Linked DNA regions of Homo sapiens. The protein of the gene in region 1 purifies or fractionates together with the protein of each later gene. This does not show direct contact. Each region holds a gene or a part of one and is shown in the gene's direction. Other genes may lie near its edges. The genes, in order: GREM2, FBN2, WDHD1 and FERMT2.

Evidence for each region.
Region 2: the proteins of GREM2 (region 1) and FBN2 purify together in Homo sapiens (affinity purification with mass spectrometry; one large-scale study listed by BioGRID and IntAct). This does not show direct contact.
Region 3: the proteins of GREM2 (region 1) and WDHD1 purify together in Homo sapiens (affinity purification with mass spectrometry; one large-scale study listed by BioGRID and IntAct). This does not show direct contact.
Region 4: the proteins of GREM2 (region 1) and FERMT2 purify together in Homo sapiens (affinity purification with mass spectrometry; one large-scale study listed by BioGRID and IntAct). This does not show direct contact.

The regions. Positions count from the first base shown.
Region 1 is NC_000001.11:240,492,246-240,500,089, reverse strand, and holds part of GREM2 (gremlin-2 precursor), read left to right. Parts: intron 1-2,492; exon of another isoform or gene 2,493-2,612; intron 2,613-6,613; coding exon of another isoform or gene 6,614-6,614; coding exon 6,615-7,121; 3' UTR 7,122-7,844. UniProt on the Homo sapiens protein: Cytokine that inhibits the activity of BMP2 and BMP4 in a dose-dependent manner, and thereby modulates signaling by BMP family members. Contributes to the regulation of embryonic morphogenesis via BMP family members.
Region 2 is NC_000005.10:128,258,051-128,264,812, reverse strand, and holds part of FBN2 (fibrillin-2 precursor), read left to right. Parts: intron 1-1,156; coding exon 1,157-1,388; intron 1,389-2,905; coding exon 2,906-3,077; intron 3,078-4,983; coding exon 4,984-5,358; 3' UTR 5,359-6,762.
Region 3 is NC_000014.9:54,941,987-54,949,830, reverse strand, and holds part of WDHD1 (WD repeat and HMG-box DNA-binding protein 1), read left to right. Parts: intron 1-5,360; coding exon 5,361-5,499; intron 5,500-7,844. UniProt on the Homo sapiens protein: Core replisome component that acts as a replication initiation factor. Binds directly to the CMG complex and functions as a hub to recruit additional proteins to the replication fork.
Region 4 is NC_000014.9:52,876,053-52,883,896, reverse strand, and holds part of FERMT2 (fermitin family homolog 2), read left to right. Parts: intron 1-2,068; coding exon of another isoform or gene 2,069-2,101; intron 2,102-2,427; coding exon 2,428-2,653; intron 2,654-2,758; coding exon 2,759-2,861; intron 2,862-5,207; coding exon 5,208-5,315; intron 5,316-7,844. UniProt on the Homo sapiens protein: Scaffolding protein that enhances integrin activation mediated by TLN1 and/or TLN2, but activates integrins only weakly by itself. Binds to membranes enriched in phosphoinositides.

The DNA.
Region 1 (7,844 bases):
TGAGTACCTATTGTTATATTTTCTGTTTTGCTCTCTGTTTGAAATGTTTCATAGTTAGAAATTTTAAAATTGAAAGCTACTTTTCTGGCAAAAGAGTTCAACACTAAAGAGAAGGCAAAGATTGAATTGGATAGAAAATGTTTGGAGCAGGACTTAGCAAAGTGTTTCTGTAAAAGCCCAGAAAGTAAATATTTTAGACCATGGGCATTATATTCAGGTCTCCACCACTCACTCTGCCCTTATAGCACCAAAGCAGCAGCCATAGACTAAATGAGTGGCTGTGGCTGTGTTCCAACATAACTTTATTTACAAAACAGATCTCAGGTTGGGTTTGGCCTGTGGGCCATAGTTTGCCTTAGTTTATAGAAGCTGGGGGTAAGTGGTTTCAGCAAGCAAGCAATCTTTGGCTGCGAGGATGATCCCTGATCCCAGGGCCAAGAAACATCGACCTCTGTCTCTAAAGGTTTAACTGAAGAGCCAGACCACCACCCTCCCAGCCTAAGAATCCAAGTCATCGATGAAGTGCCTTTAGTAGCTGAGGCTGTGGCAGTACTAAACCTCATAAAAATGACCTCTGAAGTGTAATCTTGTTGGGAGTTTTGTTTGGTTCTGCCATGGTTTTCACTTGGGTAATGGGAGCAAGTTTATCCCAGATGTGCCTATCAGTATTCAGCTATTCAGCCCTGGGGACTTCCCTTCAACTTTCCAAGAATGCCATAAAATCCTCAGGTTGTAGAAAAAGTTTCAGCCCCACGCCATTCACCATTCCTGCACAGCCCAGGGCTAACTTGATTTGACTTCTAAAACTCAAGAAGGCCACTCTTGGAGTGAGTTCATCAGCTTAGCTGTACCCTTTGCCATTGGTCACTTGCATTTGCCTGTCAGGAAGGATGACTCAGCACTACTGTATTCTTTCCTAGAAATCAGGAAGTTTTATTGTTCAAGCTCCTGTTGTAGAACCCCTGTTCAGGTCTTGCCACTTTTAGGAACGGCTGATAGAAGGGGCCTGTGATGGATTCCTTAGCTGCCTAAATACTAGCTTGCTTTGGCCTGTGCAGTCCTTATTCTGGTATCTACAGAGGCCAGGCCTGAGGGCGTTCACTTAAAAGGAAAGCACTTCCACTACCTCTCTCTTTGCACAACCAACTTTGGCCAACCCAGTCTGCTTAGACCATCAGCATTTACAGTCCTGGCACCCCTTGTAAATTGAGAACATGGTCAGGCCAGAAAGATGGTTAATAAAACCAACAGGATTTATTTATGAGTTTCTTCTGATACAAGCCAAATACAAGATGTGAGAATAAAATGAAGTATCCTCGTGCTGTCGTTACCGGCAGGGGTGGCAACATTCCTGAAAGGTTAATTGTGTGCCAACCATTTTTCTGATTAGCAAAGTGGTTCAGGACAGAGTGGGACTTTCTATAAAGTGCTAAATTCAGCTCCTGGCGGGGCCGCTGACATGCTTGTGCAGGGATGATGAGCGAACGGACAGAGGCAAGCAAGAGAACGGACGTTCTCTCCCCTGGTGAACTCTGCACAGCCAAGGGCCAGCAGTGTAGGTGCCGTTAGCAGTTGCTGGCTCAACTGCCTGAATGCTCTGAAGTAGGAGGATACAGCCTCACAGTCACTGTGGGTCACCATGGCCGAACACCTCTTGCCTACTTACCTGTCTGACAGTGAGATGCCAGATCCTTGGCCATCTTACTATTGCTATGTGTGAAGGAGAAAAGAAATGAGATGTAGGAAAGGAAAAAGAGAAGAGACTGACTTCGCCCCAGTCATCGAGATTTCCTCAACCACTTTTCCCCCTTCCTGAAAGTTGAAGGTTTGCATTTTTGCTTAGCTTCCCGTGAGACCTAACTTCTAAGGATGATTGCCAGATGTTTTGAAAACATGTTAATGAGTTCAAAGAATGCCCAGCACCACATCTAATACTATTGGCCCTAAGAGGTTTTGCCTCAAATTGATCTGATTTAGCTCTGTCAGCTCTGTCTTAGCTCTGTTCTCTCTGATAAGATCTAGGACCTGTTGAAGGAAAGCGTGCATTTTTGAGTCTATCAGCCATGCATGTGAAGCTGTTACTGGAACTAGGAATTGAGGACCAGACTGACTCTGTCAATCTTTCCTGGCTGGGACTTGCAAACTCTTGGTTATGTTTACTCAGAATGTTAATAATTTCGGAAATTATTAAAATGGAACCAAAATACTTTCTTTTTAAGAGGCTATTGAGATCACAAATCATTCCACAAATATAATAAGCTATGTAAGCTGAGCGAGTCCAATACTTGACACTTGGCCTGAGCCAGCTGGAAGCGTGGCCATTTTCATATGACATTTCATGTGTGCAACTAAGGAGGCATGAGAAAAACCCTTTAAAAATGAGGCGTTAAAATTTTAATAATTGTGCTGGACAAAATGTTTTTGCAAAAAAAAAAAAACTTTTTTTTTCTCCTTTCTGCTTTCAATTTTTTTTTTTTACTCCCTTTGCCCAGCGTCATCGACAGTACCAAACCCTTTGCTTTTGCCCATATCATCGCCCTGAGGAATCCTGTTCAGATTTCAAGGGACCCACTTACTTGTGACTTCCTAAGCTCCTCCTGCTCCTTCTCCAGGTAGAACCGATGCTTTTCCCTTTCGCCCTCACTATACTTTGTGGCCATTGGATCCCACCAGAATTGGGTGAGGCAATTTTTAGAAATACAGATCTGAAACCCCACCCCAACACTACTGACCCAGAATGCTTTGGGGCCTGTATCAAAAGATCTCATGTACTCCATAAATATATATACCTATTATGTACCCACAAACATTAAAAATTAAAAAGAAATTTAATTAAAACTTTTTTTAAAAAGAATGCTTCTTGAGCCCAGGAATGTGCACTGTAAAGTACCACAGGTGATTCAGATGTCGTTGGTCACAGGATCACTACCACAAGGACCCAGGCCATTCTTCCTAAATACCTTTGTCACGCAGTCACGTGCATGCCTTTCTCTGGCTTCTTAATTACAGACTTGTTGAAGGCAATGACCTGTATAGTATCCATATTTCGTTCAACATTTTTTTTTTTTGAGATGGAGTTTCACTCTTGTTGCCCAGGCTGGAGTGCAATGGCATGATCTTGGCTCACTGCAACCTCTGCCTCCCGGGTTCAAGCGATTCTCCTGCCTCACCCTCCTGAGTAGCTGGGACTACTGGGACTACAGGTGTGTGCCACCACGCCCAGCTAATTTTTTTGTATTTTTAGTAGAGACGGGGTTTCACCATTTTGGCCAGGCTGGTCTCAAACTCCTGACATCAGGGGATCCGCCCACCTTGGCCTCCCAAAGTGCTGGGATTACAGGCATGAGCCGCTGAGCCTGGCCTTAACACATTTATTGAGTGCCTACTGTACACCAGGCACTGTTCTGAGAGCAGGAGACATGGCAATGAACAAAACAGGCAGGTCTTCTCTCTTGGACCTTACATTCCCAGGAGAAAAGTCAGACAAGAAAGACAAGTGTGATTATGAAATACTATCTCGTTAGATGATAAGTTCCCTGGAGGAAGATAAAGCAGGGAAGGAGGAGACGGTGACGTCCACGATGGTGGTGAAGGTAACTCTAAGCCTTCGCTACAGAGGTGGTAACCGAGCAAAGAGTTGAAGACTGTGAGGAAGAAGGCCAAGTAGACATTTGGGAGAAAGACAAGGTAAGGCTCTAGAGCACAAGAATGCCAAGCTCATTCTAGAAACAGATAGGCTATTTCCAGTATGGCTGGAGCAGAGTGAGCAAGTGGGAGAGAGGACGGAGGAGGCTGGTGAGATGCAGGGGAGTGGGGAGATCTTGTAAAGGCTCGTCCGACCCTGTGAGAACTTTGCCTTAGCCTGGCCCAGTGGCCTGTAATCCCAGCACTTTGGGAGGCCGAGACCGGCAGATCACTTGAGGTCAGGAGTTCGAGACCAGCCTGGCCAACATAGTGAAACCCTGTCTCTACTAAAAATACAAAAATTAGCTGGGCCTGGTGGCGCGCGCCTGTAATCTCAGCTACTTGGGAGGCTGAGGCAGGAGAATTGCTTGAACTTGGGAGGCAGAGGTTGCAGTGAGCTGAGATCGTGCCACTGCATTCCAGCCTGGTGACAGAGTGAGACTCCATCAAAAAAAAAACAAAAACAAAAACAAAAAAAACCTTTGCCTTATTCTCTAAGATACTGGAATTCACAAAGCCTATGACAGTGCTTACTCCAGAATAAACGTTCCATGGATACTTGATGAATAAAGGAATCATCTCCAAGGTGGCATGCAAAGGCCTCTTGTGGTTTAGACTTAGACTAAGACTCAGAGAAATAATTTTAGCATAGATATTTTAACGTAAATATTTTTAACAAAGAGGCAGCTATACTCACCCAGAGCTCAGATTCTGGAGCCGGGATGCCTGGATTCAAATATTTCACATACTGGCTATAGAATCTTGGCAGCCTGTCAATGCCTTAGTGTCCTCATCCATAAAATGAAGAAAATAATAGTACCTACTTCATAGAACTCAGATCATTAAATACGTCTATACATGAAAGTAAACTGTAAGTGTTTGATGTACTTTGAGAATCAATAAATATTTGCTATTACCATTAGCATGGATATATTTAAGACGTAAAAAATTCAAACATTTAACATATTTAATATTCAATTTTAGTTATTTCTATATACTCATGATTGATAAATATAACAACTGATATATACTATATTACTATATGATACATATGATGTATATATAATTGTTACATGTCCATTTTAGGGTATACATGTTAAAAGAATGGGAATTCATGGAGTCCTAGAGAAGGTAAAACAGAAAATGAGTAAACATAAAGATGATGATGATGTTGGTAACAGCTACATTGGTAGCTACCGTTGTAAAAAGAGATCAGAGTCCTCAATATTGCTGGGTATTAGTGTTCCTTGGGGCTACTACTAAAAATACAAAAATTTAAAATGTGAATTACACTTTGAAGTCTATCTTTCACTTTAGTCAGACTTTGGCTTGTGCCCTGCAAGCCACGTTTTAGATAGCATGAGAATAATTTCTGTCCAATTCTCATTCCTATTGAATTTGTGTCATAGTCTCCTAATACAAATGAGATGACACTTTGCATTGTCATCAGACAGTTTTAATACAGCTAGGGAAATTTCTATTTTTTTATTCTTATTTTTTTTTCTGAGCCGGAGTCTCACTCTGTCGCACAGGCTGGAATACAGTGACGCCATCTCGGCTCATTGCAAGCTCCGCCTCCCGGGTTCACGCCATTCTCCTGCCTCAGCCTCCCAAGTAGCTGGGACTACAGGCGCCCGCCACCACGCCTGGCTAATTTTTTGTATTTTTAGTAGAGACAGGGTTTCACCGTGTTAGCCAGGATGGTCTCGATCTCCTGACCTCGTGATCCGCCTGCCTCGGCCTCCCAAAGTCAGCTAGGGAAATTTCTTAATTCACACCTGGGAATTAGTTTCTACTAGGAGACTCTAATTTATGACTCATTTGAATGATTTGAACATCTGTGTGCAGATGTTAAATGCTAATGTTATTATTCATATGTAATAATACAGATGCAACTAGTAATTTTTCTAGCCTATGTCCAGTTCTATCTTTAATACTCATTTTTAAAGAAACTTGTGAACGACACCCATCTTCTCTCTACTTTGTACTTACTAATTTTTGTAATCACATCCATGTCTGCTGGTTAACATTGATGGCTCTGGAGGTAGATGTCTGGCTGGCTTCAAATCCTGGGCCATTGTTTAGTGGTTGTGTGACCTCAGGTAAATGACTCAACTTCTGTGGGCCCCAGCCTCAGTTTCCTTCACTGTAAAGTGACCCCTTCACTGTAAAGGGGTCATAATACCACCTCCAACTGAAGGCTATTTTTAGGATGAAATGAGATATACATGTAAATGAGATGTACTCTTAGGACAGCACTTGGCACAAAGTAAAACACTGTAAATATTGAGTATTAACTATTATTGGTACTTCTGCAAACTGGCTTGAGGTCTCTCTTCCCAGCATTTGCTTTGTACTTCTGTAACTGTTCAACACGCGTGTTTTCTAACTGCATTTACTGCATAAGTTACTGGCCATTTTGTCCGCCTCCTTGCCTTCCAGGCATTATTTGGGGTGCAGTCCTAACTGCCTACACTTGTACCATTTAATCCCTTTTCACCTCCAGCTGCCCCTGGGCAGCCATCAGTCTGCCATGCCCCACCTGACTGTCACTGCTAGTAAAACCGTACAGCATTAAAAAGACGTGGTGGCTCACGCCTATGATCCCAGGGCTTTGGGAGGCTGAGGCAGAGGAGCGCTTGAGGCCAGGAGTTCCAGACCAGCCTGGGTAACATGGTGAGATCCCGTCTCTACAAAAAAAAATAAAAAGAAAGTAGATGGGCGTGGTGGTGCAAGCCTGTAGTTCTAGCCACACAGGAGGCTGAGGCAGGAGGATCCCAGAGTTTGAGCCTGCAGCAAGCTACGTGCCCCTGCACTCCAGCCTGGGCAACAGAGCCAGACCATGTCTAAAATAAAAAAAAAAATAAGTAAGATTGATCCCGTACTCTACGGCCCTTCACAGCCAGCCCCTCTCTTTTCTCGTTTGCAGGATGTTCTGGAAGCTTTCCCTGTCCTTGTTCCTGGTGGCGGTGCTGGTGAAGGTGGCGGAAGCCCGGAAGAACCGGCCGGCGGGCGCCATCCCCTCGCCTTACAAGGACGGCAGCAGCAACAACTCGGAGAGATGGCAGCACCAGATCAAGGAGGTGCTGGCCTCCAGCCAGGAGGCCCTGGTGGTCACCGAGCGCAAGTACCTCAAGAGTGACTGGTGCAAGACGCAGCCGCTGCGGCAGACGGTGAGCGAGGAGGGCTGCCGGAGCCGCACCATCCTCAACCGCTTCTGCTACGGCCAGTGCAACTCCTTCTACATCCCGCGGCACGTGAAGAAGGAGGAGGAGTCCTTCCAGTCCTGCGCCTTCTGCAAGCCCCAGCGCGTCACCTCCGTCCTCGTGGAGCTCGAGTGCCCCGGCCTGGACCCACCCTTCCGACTCAAGAAAATCCAGAAGGTGAAGCAGTGCCGGTGCATGTCCGTGAACCTGAGCGACTCGGACAAGCAGTGAGCGCCGGGCCGGACGCAGCTCAGCCCCGCGCGCGCCCGGCCGCTGGGTGGCGCCGCCGCCGCCTCTGTCCCTGCCCTCCGAGCCCACTGTCACGCTGCCTGGTGTTCCCCCTCAGCAGCAAGCACTTCTCTTAGGGCTGACGGTGTCCTTGTCACAGACGTGGATCGCAAGTGGAGCTTTTGCTGATGTGTTCCTGACCGACCCCGGGTCCCACCTGTGCCCCCTAAACCAGGCGGTGGATCAGGCCCGAAGGAAAATGCTGGAAAACCACCACCGCCACCCAGCAGTCAGAGAGGACCTTTCGAGGTGATGCACTGTAAATCCGGCATTGATGTTTCCACCATGTGGAAAAGCAAGGATTTCCCTGGCCCCGCCCTGCACTCCAGCTCGCCCCTTTCCCGCGCGAAGTGAAGGATGCGTCACTTTTCTGAGCGGCCCCTCAGACCTCTCCTGCTGGTCCCTGGACCTCTGGCTGGGAGCGCTCATTCTTGTGACTGGCAGGCTGCCCTCGGTCGCTGCTGTGATGAGGATATGTGCAACCTCCATAAATATGTCGGTGGACGGGGCGTCTCCTAATAAACCTGATACCAAGAAGACAACTTGAGCCACTTGGATCCCGAAGTGGGCTTCCCGGGAAACCTCGAGCAGAGCAGGCTACACAATCCCCCATCCTCAAGTCCCCACCGCCTCTTCTTCCTCACTGTCCCCGCCCCCTATTTGTGG
Region 2 (6,762 bases), on another chromosome or scaffold:
TTCCCCACTAGGTACTATGTCCTCTGTGCACACCCACTTGCACATGGGCCTGTTTCCCCACATGGGCTGAAATATATACTTGTCACATATTAGGTAAACAGACACTCTTTGCTCCACATGGAGTCACAAGAATTGAAAGAATTCCATGGAACAGATGTGATTTGTTCCCAGGGTGAAATTTGGATTATAAAAAAAGCCCAAAGAAGTCAAGCCACATGCTGTATATCAACCAGACAGTTAAGGCAAACTTATAATCTCCAAAGTTGAAAGCATAATCAGACTTTGATTTTGTAAAAATGATAATAGTAACTGAAAGTATAACCTATAATTATCCTGCTACCAGGTATTTATAGTATAATGTTAGTCATTAAGCGAGTAAAAGCTATAGCTGGCTGATGGCTGGATGCAAACCTGCCTCAGAAAGCACAGTCTGCACCCAATGGGTTCTCAAGCATTTTAAACTGAACTAGTTGTTCGTTCAACTGATTTAACTAAATAGTGTTGTTTTCCATCGTTTTCATTTAGGGTTTATAAATTTTTTTATGCTTTCTCCTCCTGTATAATGAAGGTTTGGGGAATTGCTGGGGGAATGGATACAAATACTTATAGGGACTTTTTTAATTGATATATCATAAACTTCTCTCTTTTAAAGTGTACATGTAAATGGGTTTTGTAGATTCTCACAAAGGTATGCAGTCATCAATACTACCAGTTTCCGAACATTCTCATCACCTCCAAAAGAAACACCATACCCAAGAGCGGTCATTTCCCATTTCTTCCTCCCGACAGGCCCCGGCAACTAATTTTCTCTCTATCTCTAAGGATTTGCCCGAGATATAAGCTTTTGAAGTAACCTTCTGTTAAGAGAATAGAAGAGTTATTCACTAGGCAAACTGCAAATATCTGTTCCCAAGGGCTGCAGACATATTTAGAAACAGTACAAACAGAAAAGAGCAAAGCAAGGGTTTTTTAAAGCCACAATTTAGGGGAATTTTTTTCATTCACGTGCTTTGCAAATCAGTCGTCAGAATAAAATAAAATACTGTGTTAGAGTTATTTCTGCCATAAAATCACAGGCACTTGAGACTCCAGACTTGTTCACGTTTTTGCTCTTGCCTGCTTCCCCGTGTAAGAGTTTCTTTCTTCGTTTCACTAGATGAGAATGAATGCTCCAATCCCAATGCCTGTGGCTCTGCTTCCTGCTACAACACCCTGGGGAGTTACAAGTGCGCCTGCCCCTCGGGGTTCTCCTTCGACCAGTTCTCCAGTGCCTGCCACGACGTGAATGAGTGCTCGTCCTCCAAGAACCCCTGCAATTACGGCTGCTCTAACACGGAGGGGGGCTACCTCTGTGGCTGCCCCCCTGGGTATTACAGAGTGGGACAAGGGTAAGGCGGCCTTCAGCCTCAGCACATAGAGGAATACATGGTTCCTGAGTGAGTTCAGGCCACCCCCCACTGCAGGGAAGAGTACAGTGTCTAAAAGCCAAACCGCAAAAGCATTGATTAGAACTCTTCGGGTATGCAGATAAATACCAAGAAAGCACACACGGACTGTGCTCAGGGTATAGCATTACTTCCTTTGTGATGAGCATAAAACTTGAACTTGTATGTAAATATCACTCTTTGCTCCTCTTATTAAGGGCCTGAATTGATTCAATTTGACCCAAGGCCAGAGACAAACAGATGCTTAAAAATGCGGCTCACACGTTGCCATGGATACCTGGGCTGTGAGGTAGAAGTGGAAATGGCCTTGCCACAGGTTCTTCTACAAATTCTGGAAGGTGCTAGCATAGTGATCACTGAGGAAGGAGTTTGTCCCTTTCTTTGCTCATGTGGCTTTCCTATCGCACAGAGAGAGGATGGTGCCTAGTTGGTGTGGTGTCATTCAGCACGGGCCTGACCCACAAGACAGGCTTCCCTCCAACTAGGCGCACTGTCTCAAGTTCCATGGGCTGTGGCAGAGGTGCTGGCCATTTGCATTCTTCCAGGAAGGCCGTGGTGCTCAGTAACACAGAAGATGGGCATTTAGAGGTCAGTCCAGGTTGCCTTCTTTGAAAGGAGCAGTGTGCAAGGCAGGGACTAAAAGGCATGGACCAAGTCTGTCCAACAATGGTGTATGATAATAGTTAAAACAAAAGGCTTGGTCTACACAAAGGTCATTTAGAGCCAATTCATTGACTCACTAACCAAAATATAAGTTCAGAAATCTCAGTTTTTAAAGCAGGGAGCTTTGTTGCAAGCAGCAAATACAGGCTTCAGGCCCCTGAAACAATGGAACCTGTCTTAGCATTCTCTTTGGAAATTCATACCTTACTTTTACCTTCTGGAGTTAATTATGCTCAGTACTTCAGTCTAACTAAGATTGAAAATTGGGAAAGCATGGGGCTCACCCTCAGAAGAATTTTGCTGTTTCAAAATAAGGGAAAAGTTTATCTATTGTGTGTTAAAGAATTATAGGGGATTGTGGCTCATCCCTGCAATCCCAGTACTTTGGGAGTCCGAGGTAGGAGAATCGCTTGAAGGCAGAAGTTGGAGACCAGCTAGGGCAACATAGCAAGACCCTATCTCTACAAAACATGAAAATTAAAAAAAATTAGTTGGATGTGGTGGTGTGTGCCGGTTGTCCCTGCTAATTTGGAGGCTGAGGCATGAGGAGCTCTTGAGCCCAGAAGTTTGAGGCTGCAGTGAGCAAGATCGTGCCACTGTACTCCAGCTTGGGAAACAGAGCAAGACCCTGTCTCTAAAAGAAAAATAAAAGAGTTGCAAAGAATATTAGGGTTTTATGTTTATGAGTTTAGTGTTTGCTCTGTTGGTTTCGTGTTTCTGAAGAGTCTGCTCTACCACTGGAAAACTATGGTCAAGTCAGTGATAAAGTCTAACAATACTTTGCTTTTTGCAAATAGCCACTGTGTCTCAGGAATGGGATTTAACAAGGGGCAGTACCTGTCACTGGATACAGAGGTCGATGAGGAAAATGCTCTGTCCCCAGAAGCATGCTACGAGTGCAAAATCAACGGCTATTCTAAGAAAGACAGCAGGCAGAAGAGAAGTATTCATGAACCTGATCCCACTGCTGTGAGTATATCCCACTCTGTGTTGCCACAAAATTTTATCCCTACGGAGTCATGTATACAGTGCAGTTCACGTCGTTTTCAGCCTCACTGAAGTTAATCATACCTTGAATTTAATGGATAAATTAATGGACCCAGTATGGAAAAGACAAGTAAATTAAAGTGATTGAATTATTAGATCAAAACACAAAGCTTGGGAGAAAAGACTTTAAGATTCACAGTTTCAGAGCATTTTCTCTTGTTGTAGTTTTTGATTTATGTGGGAGGGTATGTCCATCTCGGGAAGAGCTATTTTTACATGATTCAAAAAATGAAATTATTTTTAATTTGTTCAGTTCTGTTTTATAAATGTATAGCATACAAGGCTGATTTTAATTTTCACTAGGGAAACCAAGTAGGTCTCATATTCTTTGTTTTATTTTTAAGACAGTTGTTCCTTCATTAAGAAGTTTTGTCTTCCAAATCACTTGTATTCTTTAAGGAACTGAAGTTGGAAATTGCGAGCCACTGATATTTCCTTTCCCTAATTGCATTTTGGCAGTGTTTAAAGGGGTGGGCTGCAGACTACCTGGTTTTGAACGTAACTCCCTGGCCCTCCCTATCTGTTACCTCTGTTACATAGTTTGTGTTTATTTAACTTCTCTCAACCTCAGTTTTTTCACCTGTAAGATGGGAATAATAATACCTCTGAAGGCTGATGGAAGGGTTAATTGAATTGAAACATGTGAACTGCCTGGAACAATGCCTGACATATATATCACATGTGTTCAGTTCCTATGAATGATTAATATCTCATATCTAGAGATCTTGATGATTTTCCCAAAGATCTGAGACAGTATGAGGTCGTCACTCACCACTCTCTGCAGTTAATATGACTGAGAAATTACCCCACCAAAAAACCTAATCAACAACTGGCTGGCTGTGTGAATTGGACAACTTGCTTCAGTTTTTTGGGCCTCAGAATCTTTGTCTATATGACCTGACTTGTCTAGCCAAAAAGTTCATGATGCTATTTTATAATAATAAATAAGCCAGTGTTACATTTACCTTAAGTAGACTAAGATACCCAACTGATGTTTGACAGTTGAGATATTCATCAAGTTCCCAAACTACAAATCCAGAAGTTCTGCTTATAAACTTTCCCATTGGGGTACTAGGACATAATTCTGCCTGAACACTGATGGGCACTTCTGGGTCACCACTGCCAAGTCCTCACTTAACAGATGCCCAATCAAAGCATTGTGGTTTTTATCCTATCTTACTTTGATATATTTGTGCTCCTCCCAACCCTCTGAGCAAAAGTCAGACTTGGTTTATCTGGGCCCTGCCCCACTGGCTTTTACCAAAGATGCTGGTTTGAACTGGAGCCCTGAGAACTCTGCAGATCACTCACTCTGTGTACCTCTGATAGCTCCCAGTAAACTCACTCATCATTCACTTACCTTACAAATCAAAGCCCAGCTTTCAGACAGAAGATTCCCCTGGGCGCATTCCCTGCTGATGCCCAACAGCAGTACTTCTTATTTTGACTCCAGAAAAAAAAAAATCATTACCTAAATTTTAGTTTTTAAAAATTATTAATTAGCACAATATTTCATAAACTCATCAAAAAAAACTTGAAATGGGAACACTCTGTAAGCCCAGTCCTGTACCTTTAATTACCTTGTTAAGGCTGAGTGAGAAGTCCTAAAGATTTACAGGGTATTCTCGATGGAATTGGCCTTTTCTTCCAACTGACAAAAATGTACAATAGCCTCTTTCACAGCCACTGCTGGTAAGGAGAGTGCAGAAAGCGGGAGTGGGAAGCCACAGCCTGTCCTCGTGACCAAAGCCCCTGCAGCTGATCTCTTTCTAGTCCTCTGCTTGTGCTGTAGAAGCTTGTCCCAAATCATTTCCTGTTCTTCCTCCAGGTTGAACAGATCAGCCTAGAGAGTGTCGACATGGACAGCCCCGTCAACATGAAGTTCAACCTCTCCCACCTCGGCTCTAAGGAGCACATCCTGGAACTAAGGCCCGCCATCCAGCCCCTCAACAACCACATCCGTTATGTCATCTCTCAAGGGAACGATGACAGCGTCTTCCGCATCCACCAAAGGAATGGGCTCAGCTACTTGCACACGGCCAAGAAGAAGCTCATGCCCGGCACATACACACTGGAAATCACTAGCATCCCTCTCTACAAGAAGAAGGAGCTTAAGAAACTGGAAGAGAGCAATGAGGATGACTACCTCCTAGGGGAGCTTGGGGAGGCTCTCAGAATGAGGCTGCAGATTCAGCTCTATTAACCCTTCACAGACTTGGGCCCAGGCTCAAATCCTAGCACAGCCAGTCTGCAGAAGCATTTGAAAAGTCAAGGACTAATTTTAAAGAGGAAAAATAATAATAACTCTTGTTTCTTTCCTCCCTGTCTTAGACTTTGAATGTTGACCCTCACAGGGAGGGATAATTTAGACTCTGGTATGGCCAAAGATTTGAGCACAAAGGCAACCGTGGTTACTGTATTTTTTATATAACTTCATTTTAAAATATATTAAAAGAAACCTAAATGTTCAAGATATCAGCATATGGCACTAAATGCACAAAAATAATGTGAGCTTTTTTTTTTTTTCCTGTTAGCAGTCTGTAACACTTTGGGTATTTTGCTATAGTTGCTAATTAAAAAAATATAGATGTTTATTTATTTTTAATGCAGTAATATATGGAGAAATGAACAAACTATGTAAACAAAAAGGGAAACTCACTTGTTTTTCTTTAGATTTATAAATTTGAGCTATTTTTTTTAGAGGTGCTTTTTAAAAATCCAATAGATACAAGAGATGTTTCCTTTGGTTTTCTGCCAGTCATCCAGCTGATACACACCTGATGATTTTAAAGAAAGCCACACAGAGCTGAATGGGCAGTGTAATCAATAATTTAAAAAACATGAATGTCATTAGATCCTTTATAACGTAGATCGAAGCCAAAGCAGCTCATTTGTGACAACATTTCATATCACCAGACACACCAGGCAACAGAAGTTGAAGCACAACCACTGTAGCAAAATACCTTGACTGCTTGTGAGACCATTAGCATTGCAGGCCAAACCGTACTGTATTTCCTTCTCATAACCTCAAGGAACCATATGTGCTACCCACAACACCTCATTCTTACCCAGGGTGCGCTGCGTCCTCATGGTACTGTAGGCAGCTGAAGAACCGCCGTTCCCTTGAAAGGGAACACCTGGCATTCTGTGGTGTTTCGTGCTGTCTTAAATAATGGTGCATTTATTATGTTCAAGTTATTTCAGGATTGCCATATGTGCAAACAAATCATGCAATGCAGCCAAGGAATATATGTTGTTGTTGTTGTTTTAAACCCATTTTTTTTTTAGAATTTTCATTAATACTGTAGTTATACACCATATGCCTCATTTTATCATAGCCTATTGTGTATGAAAGATGTTTGTACAATGAATTGATGTTTAGTTTGCTTTAGTCATTTAAAAAGATATTGTACCAGGATGTGCTATTAAGAGCACGTATCCATTATTCTTCTCAACCCAAGAACCTGTTTCCTGGACCAGTGACCAAACCTCATATGTGAAATGGCCAAAGCACATGCAGGCTCCTGGTTGTTCCTCTCAAACCTGTGCTGACCAAAGATTAGTAACCAGTTATACCCAGTATTTTGAGGTTTTATTGTTTTTTTAA
Region 3 (7,844 bases), on another chromosome or scaffold:
CCCCCACTCTCTTCTGGCTCATAGAGTTTCTGCCGAGAGATCAGCTGTTAGTCTGATGGGCTTCCCTTTGTGGGTAACCTAACCTTTCTCTCTGAACATTTTTTCTTTCATTTCAACTTTGGTGAATCTGACAATTATGTGTCTTGGAGTTGCTCTTCTCGAGGAGTATCTTTGTGGCATTCTCTGTATTTCCTGAATTTGAATGTTGGCCTGCCTTGCTAGGTTGGGGAAGTTCTCCTGGATAGTATCCTGCAGAGTGTTTTCCAACTTGGTTCCATTCTCCCTGTCACTTTCAGGTACACCAAACAAACGTAGATTTGGTCTTTTCACATAGTCCCATATTTCTTGGAGGCTTTGTTTGTTTCTTTTTACTCTTTTTTCTCTAAACTTTTCTTCTCGCTTCATTTCATTCATTTGATCTTTGATCACTGATACCCTTTCTTCCAGTTGATTGAATTGGCTACTGAGGCTTGTGCATTCGTCACGTAGTTCTCGTGCCATGGTTTTCAGCTCCATCAGGTCATTTGAGGAGTTCTCTACACTGGTTATTCTAGTTAGCCATTCGTCTAATCTTTTTTCAAGGTTTTTAGCTCCTTTGCGATGCGTTCGAACTTCCTCCTTTAGCTCGGAGAGGTTTGATCGTCTGAAGCCTTCTTCTCTCAACTCGTCAAAGTCATTCTCCGTCCAGCTTTGTTCCGTTGCTGGTGAGGAGCTGCGTTCCTTTGGGGGGGGAGAGGTGCTCTGATTTTTAGAATTTTCAGCTTTTTTGCTCTGTTTTTTCCCCAATCTTTATGGTTTCATCTATCTTTGGTCTTTGATGATGGTGACGTACACATGGGGTTTTGGTATGGATGTCCTTTTTGTTTGTTAGTTTTCCTTCTAACAGTCAGGACCCTCAGCTGCAGGTCTGTTGGAGTTTGCTGGAGGCCCACTCCAGACTCTGCCTGGGTATCAGCAGCGGAGGCTGCAGAACAGCAAATATTGGTGAACAGCAAATGTTGCTGCCTGGTCATTCCTCTGGAAGCCTCGTCTCAGAGGGGTACCCGGCCGTGTGAGGTGTCAGTCTGCCCCTACTGGGGGGTGCCTCCCAGTTAGGCTACTTGTGGATCATGGACCCACCTGTCACTGAGGAGGCAGTCTGTCCATTCTCAGATCTCAAACTCTGTGCTGGGAGAACCACTACTCTCTTCAAAGCTGTCAGACAGGGACATTTAAATCTGTAGAGGTTTCTGCTGCCTTTGTTCGGCTATGCCCTGCCCCCAGAGGTGGAGTCCACAGAGGCAGGCAGGACTCCTTGAGCTTCAGTGGGCTCCACCCAGTTCGAGTTTCCTGGCTGAGGCTGCCGCCTTGTAGTTCAATCTCAGACTGCTGTGCTAGCAATGAGTGAGGCTCCATGGGCATGGGACCCTCTGAGCCAGGAGTGGGATATAATCTCCTGGTGTGCCGTTTGCTAAGACCATTGGAAAAGCACAGTATTAGGGTGGGGGTGACCCAATTTTCCAGGTGCTGTGTGTCACAGCTTTGCTTGGCTAGGAAAGGGAATTTTCTGACCCCTTGCGCTTCCCGGGTGAGGTGATGCCTTGCCCTGCTTCAGCTCACACTCGGTGTGCCACACCCCCTGTTCTGCGCCCACTGTCCGACAAGCCCTAGTGAGATGAACCTGGTACCTCAGTTGGAAGTGCAGAAATCACCCGTCTTCTGCATCGCTCATGCTGGGAGCTGTAGGCTGAAGCTCTTCCTATTCGACCATCTTGGAACCGCTTAATTTTGTATCTTTAGTAGAGACGAGGTTTCTCCATGTTGGTCAGGCTGGTCTCAAACTCCTGACCTCAGGTGATCTGCCCACCTTGGCCTCCCAAAGTGCTGGAATTACAGGTGTGAGCCACCACTCCTGGCCTTATTTTTAATATATCCGTTAAATTTGAAAAGTCACAATTTTGGCCTGGCACAGTGGCTCACGCCTGTAATCCCAGCACTTTGGGAGGCTGAGGTGGGCGGATCACTTGAGGTCAAGAGTTCGAGACCAGCCTGGCCAACATGGTGAAACCCCATCTCTATTAAAAATACAAAAGTTTGCCAGGTATGGTGGCTCATGCCTGTAATCCCAGCTACTTGGGAGGCTGAGGCAGGAGAATCGCTTGAACACAGGAGACGGAGGCTGCAATGAGCCAAGATTGTGCCACTGCACTCCAGCCTGGGCAACAGAGTGAGACTCCATCTCAGAAAAAACAAAAAGAAAAGAACAGTCACAATTTCATTTTTACCATAATATATCTCATTTTTCTCATGCTGAACAGTCCAGGGAGAAAAATAATAATAAAGTATATCTTATTTTCTTAATGACTTTATGTTAACCAGTTTGAGGGAGTGGCTGTGGTTTTCACATTTCCTGTTTTGTTCTGAATTTAATTTAGGTCTTAAACAGTGAAAATTTTATTTAAGAAAATTGATAGGCCGGGCATAGTGGCTCATGGTTTTTTTTCCGCTTAACACTTTTTTCTTTTTGCTCTTGTTGCCCAGACTGCAATGCAATGGCACAATCTCGGCTCACTGCAACCTCTGCCTCTGGGTTCAAGTGATTCTCCTGTCTCAGCCTCCTGAGTAGCTGTGATTACAGGCATGCGCAACCATGCCCGACTAATTTTGTATTTTTAGTAGAGATGAGGTTTCTCCATGTTGGTCAGGCTGGTCTTGAACTCCTGACCTCAGGTGATCCACCCGCCTTGGCCTCCCAAAGTGCAGGGATTACAGGTGTGAGCCACCATGCCTGGCCCGCCTAACACTTTTTTTGAGACAGTCTTGCCCTGTCACCAAGGCTGGAGTCCACTGGTGCAATCTCAGCTCACTGCAACCTCCACCTTCTGGGTTCAAGCAATTCTCATGCCTCAGCCTCCTGAGTAGCTGGGATTACAGGTGTGTGCCACCATGCCCACTAATTTTGTTATTTTTTGGTAGAGATGGAGTTTGCCACGTTGGCCAGGCTGGTCTCAAACTCTTGGCCTCAAGCGATTTGCCCATCTCGGCTTCCCAAAGTGCTGGGGTTACAGGTGTGAGCCACCACACCTGGCCAAGCCTAACACTTTGGAAGGCCAACATGATCAGTTAGCTTCAGCCCAGGAGATTGGAACCAGCCTGGGCAATGTAGGGAGACCCCATCTCTACCAAAAGTTTTAAAATCAGCCAGGTGTGTGTGGTGGCACATGCCTGTAGTCCCAACTGCTTGAGAGTCTGAGGCAGGAGGATTGCTTGAGCCCAGGAATTTGAGGTGGCAGTGAGCTGATTATACCACTGCACTCCAGCCTGGGCGACAAAGCAAGACCCTTTCTCTTAAAACAACAACAAAGAAGATTGATAATTTAATTTTTCATACTATCAGTTGGTTATACAAAAAACTTACTTTTGAAATTTTAAGGAATTACCACTATTGAAACTAATATTTTGTCACAGATGTTGATATACTTAATCAGAAATGTCCAGTTTTAGCCAGGTGGCTGTGCACTCTTGTAGTCCTAGCCACTCAGAAGGTTGAGTCAGAAGGGTTGCTTAAGCCCAGAAGTTTGAGGCCAGCCTAGGCAACATAGTGAGACTCACGTCTCTTTAAAAAACAAAGAAAGAAATGTTCAATTTTGGTTTTCTTTTTAAAAATAGCTGTTTAGAAGTAGATGATTGCAGGCCACTAAGTAGACTTGTGACATTGCCCCAAGTTTCATTAAAATGGGTCTTCATTAATTTTTGGAAATTCAGGAACCTTTGTTATACCTTGATTTTTACTTGTTTTGATTTGTTCTGTTATTTTTCTGGAAATCGGTTTACGTTAAGATTACTTAAAATTTGCATATTTTCAGAAATTGGGCAAATGGTTATGGTCATACTAGTAATTTTTTAATAAAAATTTTTTTAACCTTAAAAAGTTTAGACTTTTTATTTAGGATTCATTTAGGTTCAGCCTAGTGAGGGGCGTATAGCTGCTGGGTTAAACATAAGAGACTCTGGGCCAGGCACAGTGGCTCACGCCTGTAATCCCAGCACTTTGGGAGGCCGAGGCGAGTGGATCATGAGGTCAGGAGTTCGAGACCCACCTGGCCAATATGGTGAAACCCTGTCTTTACTAAAAATACAAAAATTAGCTGGGTGTGGTGGCGCGTACCTGTAGTCCCAGCTGTTTGGGAGGCTGAGGCAGGAGAATCACTTGAACCTGGAAGGTGGAGGTTGCAGTAAGCCAATACAGAGCCACTGTACTCCAGCATAGGGGAAAGAGCTAGACTCCATCTCTACAAAAAAACATAGACTTTGGAGTCAAATTGCCTGGTTGTTGGATCCCAGGTCTGAGTTTTACTGTTTGTGTAACCTGGGATAGGTTATTTCACATCTCTGAGCCTCCCTTTTCTCACTTATGGAATGGAGATAATAACTGTATCCATCTCATAGTGTTATTGTCATTTAAATGAGGTACTATACATAAAGCTTTTAGAGTAGTGCCTGGTAGATAGTAAGTGATCAGTAAATGTTAAATATTTGCATTAAACCTTCACTTGTGTGACTTAAAGACAATTTGTATTGTGAGTGGAATCTAATGAAATGTACAAATGTGCTGTGTCCGTGCTTCACCTAATGCTGATGCAGGTCAGCTCTGAGAGCAAGGGTGAGGCGATGGCAAAGGGGCTTGAGAAAAGTCGTGAGGAATTCAAATAGCTGGTTTGGGGAAATAGAAAAAGAGCCTACCAAGGACATGTGGTAGGCCACAAGGGCTAAGTGAGGTTGGAGACCTTGAGCCTGTCAACATTCATTAAAAAGTTGAAAGTACAGAGTTCATGGTTGCTGCACTTGGAAAATACAAACGTGAGTGATCCTTTTGAATTGACCTTACAAAGGATTTTCCAGTTCATTGATCCTGCAGTCTCCAGGCAGTTTAAAGTAATATGAGGCCAGGCACGGTGGCTTATGCCTGTAATCCCAGCAGTTTGGGAAGCCGAGGCGGGCAGATCACGTGAGGTCAGGAGTTTGAGACCAGCCTGACCAACATGGTGAAACCCCATGCAAAAAATTAGCCAGGTGTGGTGGCGCATGCCTGTAATCCCAGCTACTTGGGAGGCTGAGGCAGGAGAATCGCTTGAACCCAGGAGGCGGAGGTTGCAGTGAGCTGAGATCGCGCCATTGCACTCCAGGCTGGGTGACAGAGTGAGACTCTGTCTCAAAAAAAAAAAAAAAAAAAAAGTAACATGAATTAACAAGTGTAACTGTGTCTTCCTTACTTTATATAATAGATGTCAGAGACTTATGGTTGATTACTAACTTAAAATCATGAGGCACTTTAAACTCTGTCTTAAGTATAAAATGTTTTCACATAATTGTGATTTTAGGCCAAAGACCGGGTTCCAGATGTGGTTAGAAGAAAATAGAAGTAATATTTTGTCTGACAATCCTGACTTTTCAGATGAAGCAGACATAATAAAAGAAGGAATGATTCGATTTAGAGTATTGTCAACTGAAGAAAGAAAGGTAAGGATAATTGTGCCGAGATTGAGATCTTAGTGAATTCCCAGATTTAAAAAATTCTTATAGAAATGCCTTTTGGCTGGGTATGGTGTCTTATGCCTGTAATCCTAGCACATTGGGAGGTCGAGGCGGATCACTTGAGCTCAGGAGTTCGTGACCAGCCTGGGCAACATAGTGAGACATCGTCTCTAATAATAATAATAACAACAACAAAGATAATAACGATCATGACAACTAAAAAAAAAAGGAAAAGCCTTTTTCTGTTTTTGGAAATTGAATACATCCACCAAACTTTTTAAAGAGGAAAGTAAGTGCGGATATATGGTAATATGGATATGTAGTAATTATTATGTAATGGTGATGGGTTTTTTGTTTTGTTTTTGTTTGAGGCAGGTCTTGTTCTTTCACCCAGGCAGGAGTGTCGTGGTGTGATCATGGCTCACTGCCACCTCGACCTCCTGGGCACAAGCAATTGTCCTCTTTTTTTTTTTTATAGAGACAACCTCTCACTGTGTTGCCCAGGCTGGATGGTTAATTTTTTGACGGTTTACTGTTTTAATCTCTATAAGTTCCTGTATGTTTTAAGTTAGGAGAATACCCCAAGAAAAGATGCATTTGTTAAAAATCAAAAGTGTCAAGCTGAGTTCGTTGGCTCAAGCCTGTAATCCTAGCACTTTGGGAGGCCAAGGCAGGAGGATCTCTTGAGCCCAGGAGTTTGAGACCAGCCTAGACAACATAGTGATACACCATCTCTACAAAAATTTAAAAATTAGCCTGGCATGGTGGCACACACCTGTAGTCCCAGTTACTCAGGAGGTTGAGGTGGGAAGATCACTTACTTGAGCCCAGGAGGTCAAGGCTGCAGTGAGCCGTGATTGTGTCACTGTACTCCAGCATGGGTGACAGAGTGAGACCGGGTCTCTAGGGGGAAAAAAATTAATAAGTAAAAATGAATTCACATTTTTTGAATACTACTTTAGGGTTCTTGCAAGCAGAATTTTTAAAAATTGTATCTACTTACACATTAAATACTACATGAGACTATTCCTTTTGGGAAAAAGACTGGTGTTCTGTTCCAGCCTTTCACATGGAAATTAGGACAGGTGGCTGGCTTGCTTCTGATAAACTTCTGCCATGTGAAGGAAGGAAGGCACAATCTCTCAGTTAGAAGTGGAAGGAATGTGTGTGGTGTACCAGTTAAATCCTCAGGTTTCACTTCCCCAGGAATGGCAGGGCGCAGCACAGGCACCTAGTAACGTAGATACTTGCTTTGGTAAATTGGGTTTTATGAAAAAGGTGTTGCATAATGAGGAAGCCAGAAACTGGTTTAAACACCTTTAGCGTCATTTAGAACCTCATTTACAATTTTATGTTTCTCATTTGTTGTTCAATAAAATGGCGTCTAAATAAATAAGACTTTACACTGCAAAAGAGGAAGAGACTTGGCAAAGTCTGTGATTGTGTTTTTGAATACTTAAAAATGTAATCAGTATTTTTAAGGTAAACCCTAAACATTTACTTAAATCCAGTTTGTTAATGTGAGAAATTCTACAGCTTGAAGAGCCCTTGAAATGGCCAGGGAAATAAAGTAGGAGTGGGGAACTATTATAGATTAAAAGAGATTTTAGAGACAGATGAAATGAATGGACCTTGTCTGGCTCTTGCTGAGTGAATAAAAACCAAACCCCAAAGAATATATACTCATTTATATAACATTCCTGAAATGACAACATGATCAAGATGGAGAATAGAGTAGTGGTTGCCAGGGGTTGGAGTCGGAGTTGGGGCTTGGGGAAGAGGTTCTGTATTTTGACTGTGGTGGTAAACAAACCAACCCACAATAAAAGTAAATACATACATACGCTCAAATGAGTAGAAGTAAAATGGGATTGTTTCAATGTCAGTTCCCTATAGTTGTGATTGTTGGGCTATAGTTTTGCAAAATGTTACCACTGGGGAAAACTGGGTGAAGGCTACACAGGATCTTTCTGTATTATTTCATACAACTGCATGTGAAACTGCAATTATCTTAGAATAAAAAGTTTCATTTTTATTATTTATTTATTTATTTATTTATTTATTTTTTGAGACGGAGTCTTGCTCTCGCCCAGGCTGGAGTGCAGTGGCGTGATCTCAGCTCACTGCAGGCTCCACCTCCCGGGTTCACTCTAGTCTCCTGCCTCAGCCTCCCAAGTAGCTGGGACTACAGGCGCCCGCTACCATGCCCGGCTAATTTTTTTGTATTTTTAGTAGAGACGGGGTTTCACTGTGTTAGCCAGGATGGTCTCAGTCTCCTGACCCCGTGATCCACCCACCTCGGCCTCCCAAAGTGCTGGGATTACAGACAT
Region 4 (7,844 bases), on another chromosome or scaffold:
AGGAGGAGCCAGCACTTCACGTGGCTGGAACAGGAGGTAGGGGTGGGAGTGGGGAGGTGCCACACACTTTAAACAACCAGATCTCATGAGAAGTCACTGACTATACAGTACCAAGCGGGGATGGTGCAAAACCATTATGAGAACTCCACCCCTGTGATTCAGTCACCTCCCACCAGGCCCCTCCTCCAACATTGGGGATTACAATTAGACATGCGATTTGGGCAGGGACACTGATCCAAACCATATCAGTGATTTAGGGGGAGTATCTTTTCTATATTAGAAACTTTATAAAGCAAATTGTCCATTCTAACTTGACTCAGTTTTGGATAGAAATTATAATCTCACCAGGTGCACATTTTCAGTATACTGACATTCTTCGTAACAGATTTATTTAATAGATCTTTGAAAGAAACAAGACTTTGCCTAGAAGTTAATGTTTTTTCACACTTTATCTACATGCACACTCTGTAGCAGAAATACCCTTTGCCCAACTGAGTTGGAGTAATGTGTTCAGCACATTTAATAAGTGTGGGGTGCCCAATTAGTCCTTTCAAAAGGTGTCACACAATTTTAAGTTTGAAAAATACCTGTCTAGTTTAAGGATCTAGCTTTTAAAGCCCCAGGACTAACGATCCCAGTATTCTTTAAATGCTGATAAAGAGTTCACAACTTTGCTTTGTGTTTTAGGATTAACAGTGTTCGGATTTTAGAGGGTTTTTTGTTTGTTTGTTTGTTTGTTTGTTTGAGATAGAGTCTTGCTTTGTTGCCTAGACTGGAGTGCATTGATGCAATCTTGGCTCACTGCAGCCTTCGCCTCCCGAATAGCGTGCACCACCACTCCTGGCAAATTTTTGTGTTTTTAGTAGAGACAGGGTTTCTCCATGTTGGCCAGGCTGATCTCGAATTCCTGACCTCAAGTGATTCAACCGCCTCAGCCTCCCAAAGTGCTGAGATTACAGGAGTGAGCCACCACACCTGGCCTAGATTTTACAGGTTTTTTTTAGTACTAACATTGGAAGAACACATGTCAGGGACATAAAATCAAATATCCTGTGTCCAGCAAGAGATTACATATTTTCAGTAAAAACTTTTTTTTTTTAACTTTGCTTCCTAGACTAGGTCATGACAGCTACAAAAATCTCTAGCATTAGCACCACTTTTTCACAGGCAGTGTTTCTATCATTGCATGGGGAGAAGAGTTAAAAATAGTAGGAAAGGAGATGGATTTCTAAGCTTAACCCTAAATTTAGGGAATGGAAAAGCCATTTTCTTTACATTAACAGTGTTATGCCCATTGCACATTTTCTTTTGAAAAATTATGACAACAGGACAAAATATAATTTAACAGAGCTAGGACTTGGGGGAGCTGCTTGTCCTTAATGTCATTCTGAACATTTTTAGATGCCTTAAATTCATCTCCTTAATTTTTGTAGTTTAAATAAAGGAGCACATACCATCTGTTGACTAATGTAACAAATTGTTATTTACGTAACCTCTACTATATGTCTAGCCCTAATACTAAGAAATCAGAAGATAAATAAGGCAATATCCCTTCCTTTTGAGATTTGACTATTAAATATATCTCTGTTTAGACTCTTTCTAGGGCAGACTTTTATCTCCCCTTTTACATTAATACTTTATTTGTTGTACCCCAGAACTTAAAAATTAAAAAAAACTTTATTTGTAAAATTGTTGAAACCTGTTTATTCACTGAGAAGACTTTACTATAAAATTATTCTTAATCTATATGAATTCAGTTCTATTGTGTTACCTTCAAATTGTATGGATTTCAAATGGTGGTAAAAGTTGTAGACATATTTGTCACTATATACTTGACTACAGCACAACTTCATTCTTTTAAATTGAACAAAAAAAACCGTTTTACTTAGGTTGTAGCTTCTAAGGTTCTTTACTCTGAAATCCACTTGAAATGTGTACTTCAGTTTATGATTCACAATTAGGGAAAATCTGTTTTTTCTTTTTCTCATTTTCTTTTCATTCTTTTGTTTCTGTCCTCTGTTGTGGCCTTTCCTTTACCTTCTGAATTCCTTTCTTTCCTTTCCTATAGGCACTGATGTTCTTTACATTGGCCCTCTGAAAGGTGAGCCTTGCCACAATTTAAAGACAAAAAGTGTTGGTCTGTCTGCTTCAGCTATATCCTTATTTTCTAATTCTCTTGAACTGATTTTTTTTCCCCAGAATTTCTGCCAACTTAATTATATTCTTAAGGCTTTATTACGTGTTTTAATGTTATACAAGGAGAATTAATTACACATGTTTTCATAACAGGTAAAATAATATACTAAGCTTTCCTTTCAGAATAAAACTTTTGTTTCACAATGTGCTTTATATCATAATATGTGTTATTATTGAAAAATAAGATGCTGTACTGCATACTTACTACCTGTTTTTCATGTTACTTATTAGGAAGTATATATTCAAGCCCAGGACTGTATAGTAAAACAATGACCCCCACTTATGATGCTCATGATGGAAGCCCCTTGTCACCAACTTCTGCTTGGTTTGGTGACAGTGCTTTGTCAGAAGGCAATCCTGGTATACTTGCTGTCAGTCAACCAATCACGTCACCAGAAATCTTGGCAAAAATGTTCAAGCCTCAAGCTCTTCTTGATAAAGCAAAAATCAACCAAGGGTAAGTTTTAAGATATAGATAAAATTGAATTTCTTCATCCAGCTAGAGGTAGAAATATTGTCTTCATTCTGTGTTGTTTTGTTCCACTGTTCTTAATTTGTCCAGATGGCTTGATTCCTCAAGATCTCTCATGGAACAAGATGTGAAGGAAAATGAGGCCTTGCTGCTCCGATTCAAGTATTACAGCTTTTTTGATTTGAATCCAAAGGTACCGAGGGTTTAAAGGGATCTTTTTTTTTTCCCCATTAATTTGTTTTGTTCACATGGATGTTTGTTTTTGGAAGTCGGTGGAATAAGGAATTATTTGTATATAGGAAATCTTGAATAATTATTAAAAACCCAAACTTTTAGGCAAAGGTATTTGTATTTTAAATAAGTCTATTTTAGTAGGTTGGAAGCATAACTAAACCTTTTTATTGTTGTTATTAAGATAATGAAACTTTTGGCTGATTTGGTTTTATCTTTTTTTTAATCTCTAAGCTCTTAGAGTGTCATGATTTGTATTTTAAAGGTACTCTTTTGGTACTATAGAACTGGCAAAGTTTAGGCCGGGTGCAGTGGCTCAACGCCTGTAATCTCAGCACTTTGAGAACCCAAGGTGGGCGGATCACATGGTCAGGAATTCAAGACCAGCCTGGCCAACATGGTGAAACCCCGTCTCTACTAAAAATACAAAAACTAGCCACGCATGGTGGCACACGCTGGTAATGCCAGCTACTTGGAAGGCTGAGGCAGGAGAATCACTTGAACCTGGAAGACGGAGCTTGCAGTGAGCCGAGATCATGCCACTGCATTCCGGCCTGGGCAACAGGGCAAGACTCCATCTCAAACAAACAAAAAAAAGAATTGGCAAAGTTCATTTTTAAAATATAAGACCTCTCTTCAACTATATTTAAATAAAAGTTTCAAAAAGGTTACCTTTTCAATTACTTTTAGATTACTAATTACGTGCCAAAAGATGTTGCTTCAAAAAAACGTTTTTTTCTTGAGACAGGGTCTCACTCTGTCCTCCAGGCTGGAATGCAGTGGTATGATCATGGCTCACTGTAACCTCAAAGTCCTGGACTCAAGCCATTCTCCCACGTCGCCTCCCAAGTAGCTGGGACTACAGGCTCACCCAGCCACACCTGGCTTTCTTATTTTCTGTAGAGACAGAGTCTCACTATTTCACCCAAGCTGGTCTCAAAACTCCTGGGCTGAAGCCATCCTCCTGCCTCAGCCTCCCAAAGTGCTGGGATTACCGGCCTGAGCCACCATGCTCAGCCAAATTTTTCTTAGGTCTACATTTTTTTCCTCTGTAACAGACAAACACTGTTACTTGTCTTTACTATGATTGGTATTATCTCTGCTACCATAGTACTTCACTTTTCTGGTAAGATTTAACTTTACCATAAATATCTGGAGCTTTTTTCCCCCGTAGAAAACACTTGGCACAGAGGTTTGAATCTTTTACTTCTCTTTCAGCCTGGGGAAAGAAACCTCTCTTGGCTACCCTCTCATCCTTTTCATGTTTAGAGTATAGTCTAGATTTTAATGTTATGTTTACATTCTTTTATTATATGCTTAAGTAATTCTTTATACAACAGTAAAATCTCTATAATAAAATTATAGAAAATAATTTTAATTCATTTTCAGGCCACATCATACCTACTTTTAGTAAAGCCAAAGCTACTTTGGGAATAGTTACATTTGTGAGGGGAATGGAGATGTATTTTGTCAACGTTCTAAAATACATGTTGAGCATTCCTAATTTGAAAATGTAGAATGCTCCAAAAGCTAAGACTTTTGAGGGCTGACATGATGCTGAAAGGATATGCTCATTTTGGATTTTTATGTTAGGGACACTCAACTGGTATAATGGAATATTCCATCATCTATAAAAATTCTAAATTCAACACAGAAGGTCTCAAGCATTCTGGATAAGGGATACTCAATCTGCAGTATTCTTAAGGCATTACTATTGACTTTTATTTATATAATTAAATGGATAATTGAATAACATATAAGTAAACATTTTCCACAAGTATATTTGCCCTGTATTTTGCATACTTAAAATAACTGCCGTTTCCAAGGACTTGCCACTTTATCTGGGTATGCTTCTCCACAGTGAACAAAATGTTCCCCAGAATAATTTGCTTTCTGATTACATGTTTGTATGGCAAGTTGCAGTAATAACACTGAAAAATAATCGGTAGTTCCGCCTTACTTTAATGTCATCAAATTAGATTTCTTATGTTAAAGGCTATAATGTCTAGTGGTTATTTCCCTGAAAAATAACATACAGAATCTACTTTTTAATACTGTACAATCAATTATTCTCTGTCATATTTTAATGTCATTTTTAATGGAAAATTAGATGTGGGCATATATAGGCATGTCTGACCCCATAGGTATCCTTCTAATAATACTTGATTGTAAATAAAAATTCTTGCTTGTAAATTAAGATCCCAGGAAAAAAAGCATTAAATTTTTCTTGTCAATTGAATATTCAGAGTTTGAAATTTTTCAATGGTAAAGGTTATATATTACAAAAGAACTATTTCTCTTGTTGCAGTATGATGCAATCAGAATCAATCAGCTTTACGAGCAGGCCAAATGGGCCATTCTCCTGGAAGAGATTGAATGCACAGAAGAAGAAATGATGATGTTTGCAGCCCTGCAGGTAGTTGAAAGGTCTAGTAAATGGGACTTATTCCGGTAAAGGGTAGGGAGGTATTTTTAAACAGTAAAGTGGAATAGTAATTCCAGTAACATTTCACGAGACAGAATTTTTGCCATGAAGAAAGTGAGTAGACACTTAGGAAAGCAAAACAAATACATTTTAGTTTGATTTTTTATCTTTTCCAAGAGTTCAGTGGTATACTTAAGTACTTTTCTCTATTTTGTAGGAAAAAAATTATCCTATTTTGTAGGAAAAAAATTATCCTCTCACCCCCAAATATAAATCTGCTCAAAGCTCCTCAGTTTTTCCTTGGAAAGAAAATATTTATTAAAAATCAGATTTCTGAAATCTAATCTGAAGCTTACCTGTATAATTTCATAAATAGCCAGGGATGATACAACACACTATAAAATGGGCTGTAGCAAAGCGATGCTTTTAGGTGATAAGATTTAGAGAGACTAGTGGAACCAAACCTTTTTCTACAATGATAATCCTTAAGTAGATAGCTAACATTGTCCTTAGATTAAACCAGTTTTTTCATATGTGGTTCTTACATACCACCTCCTTCAGAATTATAGGGGAGCTTATTTAAAAATTAATTATCCACTTCATGAATAACTTTAAGGTGGCATCCACACATCCACATTCTTACAGATACTGAGGTCTGATGACCAAATTAATTCATCTTTCTTAAATTTCAGATACCCGAGTAATGCTTTGGCAAGTATTCCCAGTTATGACGGGATTCTAGGTTCAGCCTAAAGTCCTGATGAAGTTGGTGTTCTATAAATAACAGAAGTACAGGAAGCAGAGTTGACATTCAGTTGAAGAACTTTTCACTGTAGAAGGGATTTTGTTTTTCCTTAGAACACAAACAAAAATGCTCTCAGTCTTCCAAATGCCTCCTTTATGCATCCAGAAAAGTTTTCAGTTGTGACCCAAAAAGTTGACATTAGAAAGCAAGAATGGGGAGTGAGGTTAGCAAAAAAAAAAAAAAAAAAAAAAAAGCAAGAACAGCTAATTTTCACCTTAGTTTTACATAATGAAAGGAGTGGCAAAGAAGCATAGACAAGGAAAATAAATCCCAGGTGACAGATGGATTAATCAGTTATTTTCTAGGAACTTGATTAATGAGCCAGTTAGGATCCCGTATTGTGTTTCCAGATAATTCTGACTCTCTGGTGAATTTCTTGAATTAAATTCTGGAGCAGTTTGTTGGGAGTCCCCTCACGTGGTTATGGCTTTCTTCCTGCATCCTCCTCACTTTGATACAGGCTTATGATTTTCTAGTGGAGGTTTTGCCAATGATAGAATAATAATACCTGTAAAATATGTGTGAAAGACCACAGATTTTATACTGTTGCTTTATTTTTGTATTAAAAAATAGTACATGTTTATGGTTATTGTTTTTAAAACCAACAGATGCCTATTATATGCCTGGCACATAGTAGGTGCTCAAAACGTGTTTGTAAAATGAGAGTACACACAGTTGTGTTCTCACAGGAATGGCATGATTCTGCAGCCCACCTCCCCGAGTGTATCTTGGGCATTCCATATCACTACAGAAGGAACACCTCAGAGACCACAGGTTTTAATTCATGGAAATGGAATGGTCTCAAACCATAGCCCTCCAAGACCATTTTAGAATCTAGATATAATGAGAGTATTTTGACATACAGATTTGAGTTGTTGGAGGCTTTCTCAGAGACTGACCCTAAGGTTGTAGGAAGCCAACTAGTACCAGAATAAGGAAACTGTGAAAGTATGGTGAGGAGGAGATGCCTAGAATTTTTTCTTTCAGAGAGAACCTATACTCCGAAGTATACTCTCCTTGGGACATCTGGATCCTTGTGTAAAGTAAATTTACAATAGTAAAAAGAAGCAGAATAATACAAAACAAGAAGGTGGGGATAAAAAGTAAAGTAGATGAATTAGTAACATTGTTTTTAAAGCATTTAAGTCAGAGTATGTATTAAGAAATTTAAGATATCCCTTGCACTTTTGAAAGCAAAGCTGGATTTTTTAAGTCCCATTCACAGCCAGGATTTCTCCGGTATGACTCATAAAGACATTTTGCATCAGAATTACCCAGAGCAGTGAGTAAAAATGCAGATTCCAGGCTGGACCCCAGACTTCCTGAATCAGGATCTCTGGAGTAAACCTAAGGATCTGTATTTTTGACCAATTCTTCACCAGACTCTTAATATACTCTGACATTTGGGACCTGAGGGCCTCAACCTCTACCTCATTTCCCATAATTTATGAACATTGACATTTCTACAATTGTAAGATCTCATTTCAGCACAATTGAAGTAGTCAGAGACTATTCATTACCAATCAATCACTAAATCTTAAAACACAGAACATTGGTAAGTGGCCTCAGATTAGTTCACTAAATGTTCCCATGAAATGAATGTATTAAATGAATACTTTAGACATTTGGAGTGCCACTTGTTGCTTTGAAAGGTAATTGATTAAGATTTAAAGGTTCTGCTGACCTTTGTAGAAAACCTAAGGCTTAACATAATA